4 separate regions of the Homo sapiens genome follow, and regions 2, 3 and 4 are each linked to region 1. The links come from fine-mapping of genetic effects on gene expression. A gene starts in region 1. Each other region holds a variant in brackets. All regions are shown on one strand. Distances are between the middles of the regions.

Region 1 (2,681 bases):
ATCTTGTACTAGGAACTGTCCTGGCACCGGGGAAACCACGTCAACAGGGCTCACATGATCCCTGTCCCTGCCCTCAAGGAGACAGACAACAAATAAACGAATACAATAATTACACGGGGATCAGGGCTGTAAAGGGTACTCTACTAAAGTTAGAGGCTGCGGAACTAATTTGAAGAGGATAGTCAGGGAAGGCCACTCTGAGACCGATTTAGGCAGAGACCTGAAGAAAGATGGATTTGGATAAACAGTTTAAGGAGAGGAAGGAGAGTTCAAGGAAGAGGTACCAATTACACTCATGCTGTGTATGTAAAGGAGGAGGGATAAGAAGAACATTCACTCCAGGCATAGAGACCACAAAGTGCATCTTGGAGAAAAATAAGCGCGTTGCAGAGGGTTAGGTGGCCAGAGTAGCTGAAGCTTTAGGAGCAAGAGACATAAAACGAGATTATAAACGTGGGTTAAGTACCACATCATACAGGGCCGTGCAGGCTATGGCAAGGAGTCTAGATTTTATTTAAATGCCAAGAGAAGTAGGATTACTTCGGATAGCTGAATTACACTATCTTTCTTTTTTGTTAAAAGATCACGCGGGTAAAACGAGATGTGTCGAGGAAAAGTTTTAAATGCAGAGAACCTAAGTCAGATGCAAAAATTATGCACTTTTCCGGGCCTCAGGTTTTCCATAAATAAAGCAAGTGGTTTGAACTAGAAGCCATTTCCTTCCCGCTGCGACGTGGTGAGTTCTAAGAGCAGGGGCCGCGTCAGATTGACCATGGAATTCCCCTCATCGACGCCGGCGCCCAGAACACAACTGGCGCCCTGAAACTGTTGGTCAGCGCAATAAATCAATGAATGGCCTGCTACGGGCGTGGGACCAGGCCCCGGCGCCCGCAAAGAACGCGATGGGTCGCGCTGAAGGCCGCGAGAGGCGTCCGGCAAGGAAATAGGGGCCGGCTCCACCACAACCAAAGCGTGCCGAGGAGGGGAACCGGGGCCTTGGAGATTGAGGGCAGAAAAAAATCAGACTAGGGACCCGACACCGGGAATTAGGAGAGAAGGCCGAAACGTGGGTCTGAGAAAGGATTCTGGTTCCAAGCCTGGGGGCCCAGCCACTCACCGCAGCCGTCGCCAGGCTGTGCATGTTGTGAGCGGCCGCCGCTCTCTTCCACAGCCGGACGCGTCCGACCCGCGTCCCCCCTTCAGCACCCCTGCAGCGGAAAACAATGAGCCGCCGTAGCCGCCATCCGACTCCGGCTCGCTCCGCCCACTTCGCGGCCCTCTGACCTCTCACCCCTGACCCCACCCACACATCCTCTTCCCGCCTCCAGGGCCTAGTTAACAGTCCCAGAGTATGTCCTTTGCCCCTTAAGATTTAGGACCGGAAGGACGTCCGCGACCACTAGTCCCCGCAACTTCTGGCTTTGAGCAGTTATTTCCAGAGAGCGGCGTGAACTCTGACCCTCCTCCAAAAGCCAGTGAACGGCGGGAAAAGATGGACAGTCCCGGCAAGACAACTATTGCGCATGCCCGACTGGGTTGCGTAGGAGGGAAATGGTGGGGGGGCGTCGAAATCGGGTGAGGTGGAAAGTGCGCGTGCCTACTACAGTCACGGCAGGGGCGGGGCTGCCCGGGCTAGGCCGCTCTAGGTACTGGCGGGGCGGGGCGAGGGCGTGTGAGGGGCGGAGTTTTCGACTGACGCGCACGCGCCTGTCTGGTCGCGTCGAGTGTGCGTGCGTGCGTGCGTGTTTGCGTGTGGTCACAGTTCCCGCCATCAGCCGCTCTCCCTGACTAGGGGTAGCTAGCGGCCTCCCTCCTTTGGGTTCGGTATCCCTACTTCCATTACCCTCGGCTCCTCCCACTCCTCGCGGGCTCCGTGCTTTCCGCGGGTCTGTCCGGGGGCTCCGGACCCTCGGCGCAGGTAAGGCGGGCCGGGGTAGCTTCTCAATTGAGCCGTTTTCCCTACCTCCTCCTCCTTCTGTGCGATCCGCCCACTCGGCGTTCACTCCTCTGGAGTTCGCCCTGCTGCTACTCAGCCCGCCCACAACCCCTCGATGCACCCCCAGCCTCACAGGTACTACCTTTGGGTGCACTGCCCCGGCTTCCACCTCTCCTTTGACTTGGTCTCCACTGCCACTCGCTCCCTCCGAAACTCAAACCTGGCCCCTTTTCTCTGGGGCTGTTGTCGTTCGCCTCTTACCTTCTAACAGGGCCTGCTGTCTCTTCAGGTGACTTTCGTTACGGCACATCCACCAGGCCTTGGACATGATACTCATTCACTCTCTTGACCATCTTCACCTTCCTCTTGACCAGTCCTCACTGCAAAACATGAATTGTATTTTTGTTGTGCATTTCCTTGCGCCCATTTCTAGCCGCCAGATCAGGTTGTTAGATGTAACTATTTTAAGTCATGATCCATGAAAGGAAATGATGATTGATGATAAAATCCTGTGTCCTGAAGAGTTGTCCTAAAGTGGTTTTGGGGTATTCCTCTCAAAATTTCAGCTCTGTATAAATTCCTTTATTGAGGTGGCAATTCCTGACAAGTGTCTAACTGGAAGAGATACCTGAGAGGGAATGTCAAGTAGGCAGTTGGATATAGTGGGTTTGGAGATCTTAGGAGAGTTCTGGGCTGCGTACGTAAATGTGCGCGGTGTGTGTATGTGTTTGTCATCTGCCATATT
Region 2 (2,681 bases), 140 kb after region 1:
GCCCCCTTTCCGGATCCTGAGAAGAGAGGTGAGCTGACCCAAGGAAGTGGGCTGGGAGGTGTGCCTGGCCCCTGTTCTCCCAGGTCCTGGCTGCCACGCTGGGGTCACGTGAGGGCCAGGGTGGGAGTAGGCGAGGTCAATGAGGTGCTGAGGGCGCAAACTTTAGGGAGTCACTCACTGTCAGGTCCTGAAAGTGCAAGGTCTGCCTGTGGCATGCCCTTGCACGACCCTGACAGTGAGAGCAACCTTAAAGTCTGCACCCTAGATCTTCACTCGTCTTGCCCTAGTCCCTGCCCTGTGGAGAGGCCTGCAAAGATAGGGTCATGATATATTAAGAGTAGGAAATATATTAATAGGCCAGGTGCGGTGACTCACACCTATAATCCCAGCACTTTGGGAGGCCGAGGTGGGCAGATCATTTGAGGTCAGGAGTTCCAGACCAGCCTGGCCAACATGGTGAAGCCCCATCTCTACTAAAAATACAAAAAATTAGCTGGGCATGGTGGCGGGTGCCTGTAATCCCAGCTACTCAGGAGGCTGAGGCAGAAGAATTGCTTGAACCCAGGAGGCGGAGGTTTGCAGTGAGCCGAGATCGCACCATTGCACTCTAGCCTAAGCGACAGAGTGAGACTCCATCTCAAAAAAAAAAAAAAAGGAAATGTATTAATAAATAGGGACAGAATCCTGAGGACAGGGGATCAAAGTGGAAGAAAAGAAAAGAATGGAGAGGTGCCACTCCAGTGCCCATGGCAGTGGACTACTGCCATAGCGTGGGAAGAGAGGAGCAAGACAAAAAAAGAGTGGGAACTGTGGCTAATTAGAGAGCCCTCAGCCTGTCCTACAGGTCAGTAACAACTCAGCTCCAGAGTGTGTGTTTTCCTGGGGAAAGCTAAGCTAGAACTTCAACTTGTATAGAAAAGCCAGCAGTCTGGGCTGGGAGTGGTAGCTCATGCCTGTAATCCCAGGACTTCAGGAGGCTGAGGTGGGAGAATCACTTGAGCCCAGGAGTATGAGACCAGCCTGGGCAACAGAGCAAGACCTTCGTCTCTACAAAATATATATATTAAAAAATTAGTGCTGGCCAGGCATGGTGGCTCACGCCTGTAATCCCAGCACTTTGGGAGGCCAAGGCGGGCAGATCATGAGGTCAGGAGATTGAGACCATCCTGGCTAACACGGTGAAACCCTGTCTCTACTAAAAATACAAAAAAATTAGCCGGACGTGGTGGTGGGCACCTGTAGTCCCAGCTGCTGGGGAGGCTGAGGCAGGAGAATGGCGTGAGCCTGGGAGGCAGAGCTTGCAGTGAGTTGAGATCGCGCCACTGCACTCCAGCCTGGGCGGCAGAACAAGACTCTGTCTCAAAAAAAAAAATTAGCTGGGCATGGTGGCTCGGGCCTGTAGTCCCAGTTACTCAAGAGGCTGAGGTGGGGCCAGACGAAGTGGCTCACGCCTATAATCCCAGCACCTTGGGAGACTGAGGCAGATGGATCACTTGAGGTCAGGAGTTTGAGATCAGCCTGCCCGTGGTGAAACCCTGTCTCTACTAAAAATACAAAAATTAGCCAGGCCTGGTGGTGTGTGCCTGTAATCCCAGCTACTGGGGAGGCTGAGGCATGAGAAT[C/T]GCTTGAGCCCAGGAGGCGGAGTTTGCAGTGAGCCAAGACTGTGCCACTGTACTCCAGCCTGGGCAACAAAGCAAGACTCCATCTCAAAAAAAAAAAGGAAGAAAAAGAAAAGCTGTCGGTCTTGGTTTTTAGTGTGATAGGCCTGCATTAGAGATGGGGGAGCAGCCATTTGCCCGTTGGCCAGAGTTGGGGGGCTTGATTAGGCACTGAGCTCTCCAGGACATTCAAGTAGGAGCTGATTTACAGAGATTCACGAGAGTTATAGAATTTCAGAACAGCCTCCAGACCAAGGACAGAGCAGTGGCAGAAATAAGAGTTAGGGAGTGGAAAGGTGAGGGACAATCACCAAAAACTCATGAGGGTCCCCCTCGTGCCTCCCCCCACAGCTTCAGGGTCCCTTCCCCGCCCCAGGTCACCTCCCCCTGCTCCAAGTGTTCTTCCCAGGCCTGAACAGGTCTGGGTGTCCCTGCCTCTTCAGCTCAGCCCCAACATCTCTATCCCTACCACTCATCCTCATTCCCCCGGCCTGCAGCCCACCCTCCCTACACAAGGCCTTGCTTGAAGTAGCCTCGGAAGGCCTCGCTCTCGTTGCCCTGGACCTCGCGGTGCTGCACAGCCCGGCCCTTCAGGAAGTCATCCATCTGTGTGGTGTAGATGGCAGCTGCCCCCTGCTCATCCAGGGATGAGTCCTGGCCAATCCAGTAGTGGATGTCATAGGACAGGCTGCTGGCTGTCTTGTGGATCTAGGGAAAAGGTGTCCAGTGTACCCGAGACCCTGGGCTCCCACAGCCCCTCCAGCTCTGTGTGACCTCCCACACACGTGCCGTCCAGGACTATGGGGGAGCGTGGCACAGGGCAAGTGCACTAGGCTGGCGGTTAGGAGCCCTGAGTCATGGCCCAGCTCTACCATTGACTCTCTGAGACATGGCTTCTCCTCTCTGGGCCTCCCTTGCCTCATCTCAGAAATAACTTGCTTGTGCCAGGCACAGTGGCTCACGCCTGTAATCCCAGCACTTTGGGAGGTCGAGGCAAGTGGATCACCTGAGGTCAGGAGTTGA
Region 3 (2,681 bases), 330 kb before region 1:
GGCCCCATTTTCCCACCCTCCATCACCTCCACATTTTCCTAATTTAGGTCCCTTATCAAGTCCCATACAACCCCTTTCAACCGTGGGCGTCACCTTTGGTCCCAGAACTCATCAGCTTCTGGGCTTCACAAGTTAGGCTAACACATATCAGATCACCTTGACTTATGTCATTAAAACATGTGTCCTCCCTACAACTCCGGGTCCAGCCCCCTGCCCCACCCAACCACCCACCCCTCTCTCTGCATTCAACACATGCTCTGCAGCATGGCTGCTCCCACCTTCTTATCCCAGTCCTGATCCTCTACCTCTCATCTTCAGTCTCCCCTCCCCCAGCTTGGTCATCCTCCTTAAGCCTTGAAGGCAGAGGAGGGTTAGGCCAAGGCTAATGTTGCAGTGGACACTGCTGGGCATGGCAGCACCCCCTCAACCCTAGGCCTCCATTTCCCCCACCTCTTCTCTCCTCCTCCCTGGGATGGGAGGGAGGAAGCGGGTGGAAAACCCAGCCCCCACAGCTCTCTCCTAGGTGATCAAGAGGAAAGGAATGAGGCAGGTGTGTCTGGCTGCTCCTGCCTACCCCTCCTCCTGGGGGACTCTCACCCGCCCGCCTGTGGGGCTGTCTTTTGGGGGATGGGGAAAGAAACCCTGTCCTCCAGAGAAGCAGCAGAGCTGAGCATTCGGAAGCCCCTCTGCCACAGGCATGCCTGCGAGCTGCTGGCATTTGGAGGGGAAGGAGATGAGGGGCAAGCTCATGGAGGCAAATCTTCCAGCTGGTGGGCCTACTGGGGTGTATCACTAAGAGGCCCCCATTTCCTTCTCACTTCTACTCAGGGGTAGGGAGACATGGATCAGGGGTGGAAAGTATGGAGGATTTGTGCTGGCTGATCACTGGGGAAAGGAACAAGTCTTCATCCTTGCCTGGTTCATCAAGAGGGGTGCTATTCTAGGGTAAATTGAGGCAGCCAGCGGGATCCTCAAGTGTGAGCAGCAAGAGGCCTGGATGCAGTAGGTAAAGTGTTCTTTCCCTGAGATCCTGACCTCACTCCCTTCTCCACCGCCCTCCTCCTTGAGGGTCTGTTCCAGAAAACATCAGATCCGAGAGCGAAGGAGAGTGCAACACTGGACCCAAACTGCTCAACAGTGTCCTCACAGGGACATGAGGGTGGGGAAGGATTGCTGACCTGCTAAGGAGCACCCTGATATGGGGATCTGGGAGCACAAGAGGCCCAGGAAGAATGTGCCCCCTGCACCTTACTTACATACCCTGCCTGGACTCAGAGAGACCAGAATCCAGACAGTGAGTCTCCGGGCCCTCCTCCGCCACCCTTTTCCCAGCCGCGCCTCCTGGCCCCACCTGCTCCCCGGGGCGCTGGGCTGGGCTGAGCTGGGTCTTGCCCAGGATTACTCCTCTGAGTGCCTCCTGTCTCTGCAGACAGTTGCTGCTGGGCACGGCCACTCGTCCTGGCTTGTGGCAGAGGGCTCAGGCACAAGGTG[G/A]GCGGTTAGAGCTCTGGCACCAGAGCCCTTCTCGACATCCCCACTGCTTACAACCAGTCCAAGCCCCATCTCTGACTTAGAAGATGGTTGTTATTCCTCACTGGCTTACCAGCTGTCACCTCATCCCCCTTCAGCCAGTTCCCCATCAGCGATCCATGTGAGACTTGGACCAGGACACTCCCCTGCTTAAGGATCTCAAGGTTCCCATTCCTCTTTAATAAAACCCCAACTCCTTACTTTGGCTTAGAGAGACACACGATGTGACCTTTGCCCACCCTCTGAACACCTCTCCTGCTAGTCTGTCCCTTGATTTCTTCACTGCAATCACAATGGCCCCTTTGCTGTTTCTCCAGCAGGCAGAGATCTTTCTCAGCTCACACTTTCTGCCTTCACATGGCCTCTGCCTGGAATGCCCTTACCCATACTCTTTGCATGGCTTATGATGCAGGTCCCAGCATAGGTATCACAACTCACAGAGGCCTTCCCTGAAAAAACAGTGGCTTTGTCTGAGGAGCCCCACTCCCCATAAATCCCCCTACACCCAGCAGCCTGCACACAGCATTGTCTGAAATGACCTTGTTTGTATATTTACTTGTTTATTGCCCATGCCTCCCCCCAGCAAGAATGTAACCTCCAAGAGGACAAGTGTTGTGTCTCGCTTACTCACATCTGTGGCCTCAGTGCCTTGCATTGCCACCCCCACGCACCCCACCGCCCCCAGAGTGCCGCAAAGAGAGTGCAAAATAAATATTTGTTAAATGAATGATGAAGGGAATGGTGGAGGAGGCTGTCTGGGCCCTTTATGGAATTACTTCAGCTCAGTTATGTCTATTTCTTTTTTTTAATCCTCCTCTCTCTGCCCGTCAGCTTCCATTCATTCCCCACCTCCCATCTCCAGGGAAGGGGTGAAAGGATGGAGACAGACTGACGGGTTGCCTGGCTGAGGCTTGTTTTAGGGTGTGGAGCAACCCCCAGCCCAACTGAACTGTCTGGGCTTCGGGGAGGGAGGAAGAACCCAGTCAGTCCTAGAGCCCACAGAAGTGAGTGGTGGGGTTCAGACAGGCCTGGACTGTCCGGCGATCACAGACCTCAGAGCTGAGGGGTTCCTATAAGATCATGTGGTCCAATCTCCTCTTCCCAAGAGCCAAGGCGATGCTGCCTTGCCAAGACCGTAAGCCTCAGAGGGCCAG
Region 4 (2,681 bases), 130 kb after region 1:
GGATCCCAAGCCAGGAACCAGCCTGTGAAGGTGGGGGGCTCGTGTCCCTGCTTCACCACAATGATGGGGGTCTCAGGGTCACGCCCGCTGGGATGGGTCTTGAGGTATTCCTGTGCAGTGGTTGCTGCGGCCTTCTTCTCCTCCTCGTTGGCATGTTTCCCAATCCAGAAGAAGACCTATTGAGAAACCCAGGGGATCAGTCCATCCTTCCTGTCCTCCCTGGCCCACAGGGCTCTGCCTCAGTTGTCCAACAGTGAAACCCTGACCTTGACCCTGACTCTACCACTACCAGCCAAATGACCTAGGGCAGGCATCATCTGGCCTTGAATTTGTATCTGGGAAATTAGAAGGTTGGACAGATGCCTTGTACTTGGATATTCTGCAAATGTGTGTCTCCCAGACTGTCCAAAGCCCAGGATTCTCAAAAACACTCCTGCTGCCATGTGAAATAAATAGGACTTTGGGAGAGAATACGTTCTTCCCTGCAGCCCCTCTGAGCATGTTCCTCCCCACCTTCCTTCTTTCTTACACTTCTGGTGTTCATACCATTTCCAGGGAGAAATTATGTAAGGGCCAAGAAAACATTGACACTTACCTAACCTTAAAGCCACTCTTTCTTGGCCCTGGGGATTGAGGTGGCTGGGAAGAGGGGTCCCCAGGCCCTTGGTCCTACCTGGTCCCAGACATCTAGTAGGAACACATCATCCTCTTCCAAGTCATCCTGATTGAAGTCAGGGATCTCTGTGGCCAGGAAGCGCCCAGTCTTGTTGGAACACTCAAAGAGCCGGGGGGTGATGACCAGGTTTTCTTCCTGTAGTCTGCAGGATGGAGAGAAGATTGTACTGGCAGAAGGAAGGTGTGGCAAAAGGAGAATTGAGGACACAGAACTCTGAGGAAGGGACTCTGGCATAGAAAGGTCATCTCCAGCAAAATGCTCTATCTTCTGATTGATAAAAGGGTCCCCTCTCATTCCAAGAGTGCTCTGAGGAAGAAATTGTCACTGCTTTCTGGACATGCATTCCAGTGTCTTTTGCAGAGCCTTGTTAGGAAGTTCTTCCTGATATCTTCCCTCCATCCCTCCTACTGCTACTACAGTACATGCCCTTTTGCTTTTGAACTAGGGACTAGTAGATCATGGATATTCTCTAGAAAAACCATTTGAGCCAG[T/G]CACCGTGGCCCACACCTGTAATCCTAGCATTTTGGGAGGCTGAGGCAGGTGGATCACCTGAGGTCAGGAGTTCAAGACCAGCCTGGCCAACATGGTGAAACCCTGTCTTTACTAAAAATACAAAAATTAGCCGGGCACGGTGGTGGGCGCCTGTAATCTCAGCTACGCAGGAGGCTGCAGCAGGAGAATTGCTGGAACCTGGGAGGCGGAGGCAGAGGCTGCAGTGAGCTGAGATTGCACCACTGCATTCCAGCCTAGTTGACAGAGCGAGACTCTGTCACAAAAACAAAACAAAACCATTTGAAAGAGGGCTTGTGGCTGGGGCTCCTCAGCATCCCAGGCCTGTGTCAGGACCTAAAAGCAGGCTGGCCTCTGGCATCTTGTTACTGAAAGGCAAACCTCTAGCCCTGCCCCTTGCTTTGAGCTGCCTCCTATGGCCAGGAATTCCCTTTGCCAAGGAAATACCCCACCAGGTCCTGGGCATACTGTAGTGAGCAGCACAGACACAGCCCCTGTGCCAAGAGGCTCCAAGGGTATGGGCTGCCCTTTATTCATCTTGTAGCCCTGGGGGTCTGGCACAGTGCCTGACACACAGAGTCCTCAGTCCATGCCTGCTGTAGGCTCTGGGTGTAGGGATGGAGATGCTGGGCGGCTCCCCCACCTTGGTAACCTGGAGGCGGAGGGACCTGAGAGTTACCTCTTGGTGTTGGCATAGGGGGCCTTCCCACCCAGGGCCATCCAGAAGTTGGCTGGCTCCTGCCCTTCCACCACCACTTGCTTCTCCGTCCGGGAGATGGTGTCAGCAACCATCTTGGCCATCTCCCGCTCGTCCCCGCTACAACCCTAGGAAAAAAAAGAGTTGGCTAATTTCTAGTGCCACCCCTACCTCCACCCTCCTACTACATTCACTGCCCAGAGTTCAGGGGTCAAAGAGGGCTCTCCTGGGTCAGGACCTTGTGTATACAGGCCACACAGGGACAATTCCATGCTTTCTTCTGTCCTTGACACTCCAAAGAATAGCAGAAGAAACTAGAGAGTCTTTTCAAGGTTCGAGAGGGACTCCAAGAGGCTATGCATTCTTCTTACAGAGATCAAAGGAGAGGCAGTGACAGGCTCAGGGTAGTGAGAGAGAGCCCAAGACATAAAGACAGACCAACACAGGGACAGATGGAGGTGGCCAGAGAAACAGAACAAGAGAGACTGACTCCGACAGAGAGGCAGAGAATCTGAGGATGGTCATTGATGAGGCAGAAGGATAGACCCAGAGCTACTGAGGAGGGAGAGACTGGGCTCCAGAGGCGGCTGAGAATTGAGCAGGCACAACTTAGTTGGCCAGGGGTTCCTGCCCTGACCTAGGGCTGCTGCGAAACTGGGGGACTCCCAGGACCCACTTGCGGATGGGGAGGCCTCTAGACCCTGAACACACCTTCCCACACCATAGATAGCAGCAAGACTGGGTCTTGAGGACAAAGACATCATTGGAATTGAGGAAATTGGCCCGCGCTGGGACCTC

Direction of the effects. Alleles are on the strand shown, and positions count from the first base shown. SD is a standard deviation of normalised expression in the study named. Not every link is listed here.
For the expression in lymphoblastoid cells of the gene that starts at base 1,257 in region 1, allele A in region 3 goes with a higher level than allele G (large effect, 1.1 SD a copy in TwinsUK).

Evidence for each region.
Region 2: its variant is fine-mapped to the expression of CNOT9 in whole blood (TOPMed, PIP 0.97).
Region 3: its variant is fine-mapped to the expression of CNOT9 in lymphoblastoid cells (TwinsUK, PIP 0.91).
Region 4: its variant is fine-mapped to the expression of CNOT9 in blood mononuclear cells (TOPMed, PIP 0.93).

What each region holds. Positions count from the first base shown.
Region 1 is chr2:218,567,415-218,570,095 of GRCh38, reverse strand. It overlaps CNOT9 (CCR4-NOT transcription complex subunit 9), which reads right to left and starts at 1,257. Exons shown (of 8, transcript NM_005444.3): 1 at 1,118-1,257. The coding sequence starts at 1,141. It overlaps USP37 (ubiquitin specific peptidase 37), which reads left to right and starts at 1,745. Exons shown (of 26, transcript NM_020935.3): 1 at 1,745-1,918. RefSeq lists enhancers at 663-852, 647-1,274, 1,275-1,902 and silencers at 1,563-1,622, 1,713-1,782.
Region 2 is chr2:218,425,300-218,427,980 of GRCh38, reverse strand. It overlaps VIL1 (villin 1), which reads right to left. Exons shown (of 20, transcript NM_007127.3): 4 at 2,170-2,366; 5 at 1-16. Among named protein-coding and RNA genes, the nearest start is that of VIL1, 7.5 kb to the right of the region's middle. RefSeq lists a silencer at 1,975-2,192. The variant C/T (reference allele first, on the strand shown) is at 1,623.
Region 3 is chr2:218,893,318-218,895,998 of GRCh38, reverse strand. WNT10A (Wnt family member 10A) reads right to left here. Exons shown (of 4, transcript NM_025216.3): 4 at 2,071-2,681. LOC105373882 (a long non-coding RNA gene) reads left to right here. Exons shown (of 3, transcript XR_923916.3): 2 at 1,081-1,294; 3 at 1,430-1,522. Among named protein-coding and RNA genes, the nearest start is that of WNT10A, 14 kb to the right of the region's middle. RefSeq lists a silencer at 398-692 and an enhancer at 2,666-2,681. The variant G/A (reference allele first, on the strand shown) is at 1,492.
Region 4 is chr2:218,434,619-218,437,299 of GRCh38, reverse strand. It overlaps VIL1 (villin 1), which reads right to left. Exons shown (of 20, transcript NM_007127.3): 14 at 2,595-2,681; 15 at 1,866-2,011; 16 at 674-818; 17 at 1-176. Among named protein-coding and RNA genes, the nearest start is that of VIL1, 17 kb to the right of the region's middle. The variant T/G (reference allele first, on the strand shown) is at 1,168.